Linked DNA regions of Homo sapiens: regions 2 and 3 are each linked to region 1. A link means that fine-mapping ties the variant in region 1 to the expression of a gene that starts in the linked region. Tissue or cell type: whole blood. Region 1 holds a variant in brackets; each other region holds the start of a gene. All regions are shown on one strand. Distances are from middle to middle.

Region 1 (2,764 bases):
AAATTTGATTAAACCATAAAAACCATTCAAGAGGATTTTATAGCTAATAAAATCTGAATTGATTTTACTTCAATAGAGTTGTTAAAAAGAGTAAAACTTTTAACAAGCTTAGTTCATTCTGAATCCAATTATTTAAATCCACAGAACATACAGAAAACCAATACTGTATCTTTTTTTTTTTTTGAGACAGGGTCTCACTGTCACCCAGGCTGGAGTACAGTGGCAGGATCTTGGCTCAATGCAGCCTCCATCGCCCAGGTTAAAGCGATTCTCCTGCCTCAGCCTCCAGAGTAGTTGGGATTACAGGCATGCACCACCACACCCAGCTAATTTTTGTATTTTTAGTAAAGATGGGGTTTTGCCATGTTGGCCAGGCTGGTCTCGAACTGGCCTCAAGTGATCCGCCTGCCTCAGCCTCCCAAAGTACTGGCATTCAGGCGTCAGCCACCGCGTCTGGCCAGCAATACTGTATCTTATAGTTCACCAAAAAGAACAACTGAAGAAGCATTTTTTAAAAAGAGGAGGAGAATTTTATCATCCATAGATTACTTACAAGTATTATAACCTATGATTATAATGAAGCAAAACTTAGTACAAAAACAACAAAATAAGCTCAGTGTTGCTATTCTAAGACATATTTCCTTATATGTAGCTTTGATTAACTTTTGTATAACTGAAAGACAGTCGTGCTTTTGGCTAGCATAACAACTCTACATATGAAATTCCAATCTTCTGACAGTTCATTAAAAAACAATTGCAAACACTGTAGAGTAGCCAGCTAAGCAAAAAAAAAAAAAAAAACAACAACCCAGAAAACTTCTAGAAAACTTCTAGAGTGTTTTGTTTGGAAGAAACAGGATCTCGCTCTGTCACCCAAGCTGTAGTGCAGTGGCACAATCATAACTCTGCGGCCTCAAACTCCTGGGCTCAAGTGATCCTCCTGCCTCAGCCTCCCGAGTAGCTGGGGCTACAGGTACGCACCACCACATCCTCTAATTAAAAAAATTAGGGGGGGCCAGGTGCAGTGGCTCATGCCCGCAATCCCAGCACCTTCCAGCACTTTGGGAGGCTGAGGCAGGCGGATCACCTGAGGTCAGGAGTTCAAGACCAGCCTGGGCAACAAGAGTGAAACTCCGTCACAAAATAAATACATAAATACAATACAATACAATACAAGTTACAAAGCAAAAACAAAAAAAAAAAAACCAAAGTACACAGGCAACAAAGAGCAGAGTGAATGTAATAGTACCTCGCATTTCAATACTAAAAACTGAAATTATGTCAAGCACTCTCTTAGACCACAGTGGAATAAAACTGGAAATCAACTCCAAAAAGGACCTTCAAAACCATGCAAATACATGGAAATCAAATAACCTGCTCCTGAATGCGCACTGGGTCAAAAACAAAAGCACGATGGAAATTTAAAAATTCT[G/T]CGAACTGAATGACAAAAATGACACAACCTATCAAAACCTCTGGGATACAGCTAAGGTGGTACTAAGAGGAAAGTTCATAGCCCTAAACGCCTACATCAAAAAGTCTGAAAGAGCACAAACAGACAATCTAACGTCATACCTCAAGCAACTAGACAAACAAGAATAAACCAAACCCAAACCCAGAAGAAGAAAGGAAATAACCAAGATCAGAGCAGAACTAAATGAAATTGAAACAAAAAAAAATACAAAAGAGGAATGAAACAAAAAGCTGGCTCTTTGAAAAGATAAATAAAATTGATAGACCTTTAGCAAGATTAACCAAGAAAAGATGAGAGAAAATCCCAATAACCTCACTAAGAAAAGAAACAGGAAATATTACAACTGATACCACTGAAATACAAAAGATCATTCAAGGTTACTATGAACACCTTTACGCACATAAACTAGAAAACCTAGAAGATATGGATAAATTCCTGGAAAAATACAACCTTCCTATCTTAAATCAGGAAGAATTAGATACCTTGATCAGACCAATAACAAGCAGCAAGACTGAAATGGTAATTAAAAAATTACCGATTAAAAAAAAGTGCAGGACCAGATGGATTCACAGGAGAATTCTATCAGACATTCAAAGAAGAATTGGTACTAATCCTTTTGACACTATTCCACAAGATAGAAGGAACCCTCCCTAATTCAGCATCACCCTAATACCAAAACCAGGAAAGGACGTAACCAAAAAACAAAACTACAGACCGATATCCTTGATGAACATAGATGCTAAAATCCTTAACAAAACACTAGCTAATTGAATCCAACAACGTATCAAAAAGATAATCCACCACAATCAACTGGGTTTCATACCAGGGATGCAGGGACAGTTTAACATATGTGAGTCAATGAATGTGACACACCACATAAACAGAATTAAAAACAAAAATCACACGATCACCTCAATAGATGCAGAAAAAGCATTTGACAAAATCCAGCATCCCTTTATGATTAGAACTCTCAGAAAAATCGGCATACAAGGGACATACCTTAGTGTAATGAAAGCCATCTAAGACAAACCCACAGCCAACATAATACTGAATGGGGAAAAGTTGAAAGCATTCCCTCTGAGAATGGGAACAAGACAAGGATGCCCACTCTCACCACTCCTCTTCAACATAGTACTGGAAGACCTAGCCAGAGCAATCAGACAGGAGAAAGAAATAAAGGGCATCCACGTCGGTAAAGAGGAAGTCAAACTGTCACTGTTTGCTGTCAATATGATCGTTTACCTTGAAAACCCTAAGAAGTTGTCTAGAAAGCTCCTAGAACTGATAAAAGAA
Region 2 (2,500 bases), 77 kb after region 1:
GCCTGGGCGACAGAGCCAGACTCCGCCTCAAAAAAAAAAAAAAAAGAAAAAAGAAAAAATATTATGACAAACCTCTATTTTTGCATTCTAACTACCTCATTCTTTTTCATTTAATATTACTGAGGAAGTTGATTCCAAACCTAATCATTATTCATTGAAAAACTAAAGAAAAAAAAACAAAAAACTAGTCATTTCATTTGCTTTCAGAAGCATAATAAAAATAAACATGAAGGGGGTTTCATGATTATTCAAATTTATAGACGGAATCTATAAAACATAACCAAAAATATTGTCCTGTGTGATATTACTTGCTCCTCTACATTCCAACTACTGGGGAATTAAAAATAAGTGTCATAAACAGTTTCTTAGACATCTTAAAATTCTATCCTGCAACTTTGACTTTATAATCCAACAGGAAGGAAAGTCTGAAGTATCAAAAAGAAAATTGACGTGAAGCACAAATCTATATAACCTAACTCTGACACTTTGAACAGAGCAAACATGTTTAGCTGCAATAACAACAACAATAAAACAACAATAATAAAGGTTTCAAAGTCCTGTGCAAAAACAAGCTGAGTCTTCCCTCTGGAAAATAGATAATTTAACAACTTTACAGAAGGACCTGACACCACAATACTCCCGTGCTAAATTATTCTCTTAAAGCACCTGCAAAGCAGAGTAATCTTTCACATCCAAAAGCCACTCCCTGCTCAAAACCACCCGCATCCAAGCCGAACCTGAGACCTCACCAGCTGCCCTACCTCCAGCGCGCTCTCCCCCGACCCCACAGCAGCCCCTCGCGGAGCTCTCCTCTGCTGTCTTCCTTTTTCTTTGCCAAGAACACCAGAAAAGGGGGTCCCTCCAGCTCGGCCGTCCAGACCCTTCCTCTGGCTCAGAGCAGTGGCGAGCCCATCCCAATTCCGCGCTTCCTTTGCAGGCCTCCCTCTGGCGTGGGGACCCTCCTGCTTTCCTATGCAAGTACTAACCAGGCCCGACCCTGCTTAGCTTCTGAGATGAGACGAGGTCGGGGGTGTTCAGGGTGGCACGGCCGTAGACCCTCTGGCTTTCCGCCGCTCCACCTGGCACTCCGAGAGCTAACGCCAGCGATGGAGTCCGCGCCACCCCTGCCCCGAGGCCTCTGCCCCAACTGCGTGGCCGCTCAACTCTCCGCTTCCTCCCGCCCGCCTCTCCACCCCACCCCGCCCCTGGCCCTGTACCTGGAGCTCCAGGCCAGGTACAGCTGGCCTGCCCACGCCAGCTTCCCAGCTGATGCCTGGCGCTGAGCAGCAGTCTGACATGGAGAAGGCGGAGTCCTTCCGGGGTCAGGAGTGCGAAGGTGGAGAGAAAGTGGAGGGGGCCTTCCAGGCTTTCTGCGTGAGGGACTACGTGTGAAGCAGCTCCCGCCATTTTTGTTTAGGGTAGAGGCTCCTTCCTCGTCAAGTGGATGCAAAAACTATATTCGAAGAATTGCATCCTTTTACAAACCGGTAAAAAAAAAAAAAAAAAACTAGTATTGTAGTTCGTAACCTGTCGGGGGATCTAGAACGGTTGTCAATCTGGTAAAAATTATGGAGGGTTTCCCCTGGAAAAAAAAAAATGTGTATACACATGCTCATTACATTAAAGAAAAAAAAGTTACACAATTTCAAAACCCTGAAAACAAGATTAAGAACTTCTACCACAGGCCCTCAGCCCTCAGATGAATGAGTGTTAAGAGGCATTCCAATCCGGTATAGATGATGCATTTATTATTGATTTCATGTCCTCTTTACCTTTTTTTCTGTGTTTCCCACTGAATTAGGCAACCGAAGAATATTGAATGTGGCAATTTATTGGCAGAGTAGTCACCTCTCTCAGGTTCTAATACATAGTAAACTAATAGGGGGCCGGGTTAGGAAAAAATAACAACAACAAAACCCAAGGTACTGTTTCTACGTTCAGTCTTCAGTCAAAACATTCCATCAGAACTGCAGATTTAGGCGGGGCACGGTGGCTGAAGCCTGTAATCCCAGCACTTTGGCGGGCCAAGGCGGGCAGATCACTTGAGGTCAGGAGTTCAAGACCAGCCTGGCCAACATGGCGAAACCCCATCTCTACTAAAAGTACAAAAATTAGCCAGGCACCTGCCTGTAATCCCAGCTACTCGGGAGGCTGAGGCAGGAAAATCGCTTGAACCCGGGAGGCGGAGGTTGTGTGAGCCCAGATAGTGCTACTGCACCCCAACCTGGGTGACTAGAGTGAGACTCTGTCTCAAAACAAAAAACAAAACAAAACAAAACAAAACAAAAAAACTGCAGATTTAAGAATTCCAGTTGCTGAGCATATTTGTGGTGAAAAGCCAAAATAATTCTGTTTTCAAAATTCCCATTTAACCAAATGGAAAATAGAATAGTAGTACCAATTTATGATATTATTAGATTAATAATAACTAACGATCCACAGACTGGGTTTTATGTGAAAATATTTTGCACTTATAGGGTAAATGGAGCTCTTGAGACTT
Region 3 (2,500 bases), 33 kb before region 1:
TAAACTACCAAGATGTTCTGTGTGTGTGTGGCCTACATAACTATAAAATAACAGTCCTCTCTTCTATAAAAACGTTTAGACTTTTACCTGTCTGTTACATACTTTTCCACATTCACTGCATTATTTTCTTTCTTTTAGGTGTGCACAACTCTCATATTTAAATAATCCCCCTTTTTTTTGTCTTTTAGGGTATTTCAAAGATAACAGGTATTTTTTTTAATAAATGAAGTATGTCATTATAGGCCGCTCAGATTCTAAGCAATCTGAATCCCCAATTAATGTCTTCCAAATATGCATATTTAGTTTTTATTCTGCTCAAAAATGAAACCCTAACCTAAATACTTCAAGTGAAATTTCAGGGGAAAAAGACTGTTCAAAAACCTAGATAATGCATTCCTTTGTTGATGCTAAATATAGTCATCTCAAGATGACATACATTTTGACAATGATCAGCCTTACATGTCAAATTTTCAAAAATAGCACAAATTCCATTTTAAGGTGAGCAGGAACAATTGCTATTCATTACATTTCAATTGAAAATGGATTTTAAAATATGAATCTTTTATTAAAACTGGATTACATTGTAACTATGATGAGGAAAACTGGATTTAAAATAATTTTGTTGTGGTTTTAGCTTAGAATTCTTTAAGGGAATTGCAGATAAACTACATAATTGCATGCATTTTTCTTTAAATTGTTCCTCAGAAGCATTAGTCAAAATATAAAATATCTGCAAAAATACGGTGTTAATTGTAAGGAAGAAGAAACTTAAACAGCTACATTGGTTAATCAAAGTTTACTTATACAAATTATACCTCCCCCCAAAAAACCTTTCTCTCATTTGATTAATTATGCATTTTTTCTTAACAATACCCCAAACTCAAAAGAATTTGAGACAAAGTTTTCTAACTGCAGCAGTTTAACCTGTAAAGGATAATGTTTAGCGGGGGAAATTATGTGGTCCACTCAATAACGTGTGACTAAGATATAAATAACGTGTGACTAAGATATGAACTTAAGTATAAATACTTAAGTTTATTTAATCACATTACCTAAGACATAGTTATGTTGTGACTCGAAGGCCAATGGGCCGCTGCTACATGAATTCATTAACAAAATTTAACGATGAATGATATTCCCGTTGTTTTGGTCAGGGAACTAATTTCTTTATTATGGCTTCTTTTCTCTACCTGTGTCTTCACCAAGGACATTTTGTTAGGACATATCCTTATGCTATTTTTACCTTGTTATCTCTCTGCCAACTTGGTTCACGTTGTGCTTTAATAACTATAAAATGAGCATCTCTAAGTCACTGCAGTAACCAACTATAACCTCTCAACTTCGTCATTTTCTTTATAAATGCCAATGCTAATGCATTTGTAGAACGTTTCACAATTTACAAACAGCTGGAATGGTTTGGCGTTTTCAAAAGCATATAGGCAAAGGGAGTTCTCAAGAGGTGACTACATTCTTCACTCACTTAAACTACGTAAACTTCGTAAACTTCCAGCCCTAGTTGCTCAACCCCCAGCATCCCACCTCGGGCAGAATCACGAAAAAAAAAAAAAAAAGGGTTGGAGACAGGAGTGGGGGGATATGCGGGGGTGTGGGGGGGGAGTAATAGGCTGTTAAATCATATTTCTCCCCATCTTCCACAGAGACCGATCAGAAAGGATTTCTTAACTGGCACTGCTGGCAGAGACGGAGACCGCGGCTGGGGCAAGTGGTGGGGGACGGCACTGAACTTCCCTAAGGACCCCAAGGGTTCAGCCGAGGGATCGGCACCCACTCCGCTCACAGAGGGCTCCCTCCCTACAGTAGGGAACGCACCCGAAACTCAGCCGACAAGGCGCAGGGGAGCAGGGCAAAGACATTGCAACCAGAAGCCCAAGGCCGGCCGACACTTTCAGACCCTGGGGCAGCCCCTGGTAGGCACCCCGCCGAGCCCGCAGGATGCGGCTCCAAGGCAGGGTTCGCCCGGGCCGGGGCCAGCGCGGACCACAGCTGTATGGCGCCCGGCGCCCTCCGGAGCTGCAGCGGAGCACGGCCAGAAGCCGCAGACCCCGAGCGCCTCTCTGCAGCCGCCGTTCCCGCCCCCGCCCCCACCAGGGGACCCGACACCTCCGTCTCCACTCCCCCCAGCCCACGTTCCCCCAACTCTTCTCACCCTGCAGGAGCCGGTGACCGGCGAAGGTACTTCTTTCCGCGTGGAGGGACTGTGCGCGTCCCGCCTGGCTGTGGGTAGGGGTCTGGGAGCTCTGGCCGCTAACACTTCTGCTCCAGCCGCTGGGAGTCCTCTGGCTGCCGCTGCCGCCGCCGCCGCCGCCGTCTCCAGCAGCAAGTTTCCATAAAAGTCCTGGTGTGCAGCCTGTTCCCGCATTCCAGGCGGGCCCAGCGCCGGCTGCAGCTGTTCCAAAACACAAGGCCAGTTCCCCCAACCCCCCACCTCCGCCGTTATCACCCGGAGTGGGGGTGGAGAGTTGAGGAGAAAAGCAGGGGA

What was found. PIP is the estimated chance that this variant, and not a neighbour inherited with it, causes the effect.
Region 2: MIGA1 starts here. The variant in region 1 is fine-mapped to the expression of MIGA1 in whole blood (TOPMed, PIP 0.99).
Region 3: NEXN-AS1 starts here. The variant in region 1 is fine-mapped to the expression of NEXN-AS1 in whole blood (TOPMed, PIP 0.94).

What each region holds. Positions count from the first base shown.
Region 1 is chr1:77,855,764-77,858,527 of GRCh38, reverse strand. The region is part of intron 8 of MIGA1 (mitoguardin 1); the gene reads right to left. Among named protein-coding and RNA genes, the nearest start is that of NEXN, 31 kb to the left of the region's middle. The variant G/T (reference allele first, on the strand shown) is at 1,433.
Region 2 is chr1:77,778,454-77,780,953 of GRCh38, reverse strand. MIGA1 (mitoguardin 1) reads right to left here and starts at 1,305. Exons shown (of 16, transcript NM_001416120.1): 1 at 1,218-1,305. It also overlaps the pseudogene RNA5SP21. RefSeq lists an enhancer at 1,329-1,418.
Region 3 is chr1:77,888,427-77,890,926 of GRCh38, reverse strand. It overlaps NEXN-AS1 (NEXN antisense RNA 1), which reads left to right and starts at 1,388. Exons shown (of 3, transcript NR_103535.1): 1 at 1,388-1,459; 2 at 1,659-2,500. NEXN (nexilin F-actin binding protein) reads right to left here and starts at 2,303. Exons shown (of 13, transcript NM_144573.4): 1 at 2,168-2,303. RefSeq lists a silencer at 1,919-2,058 and an enhancer at 2,299-2,358.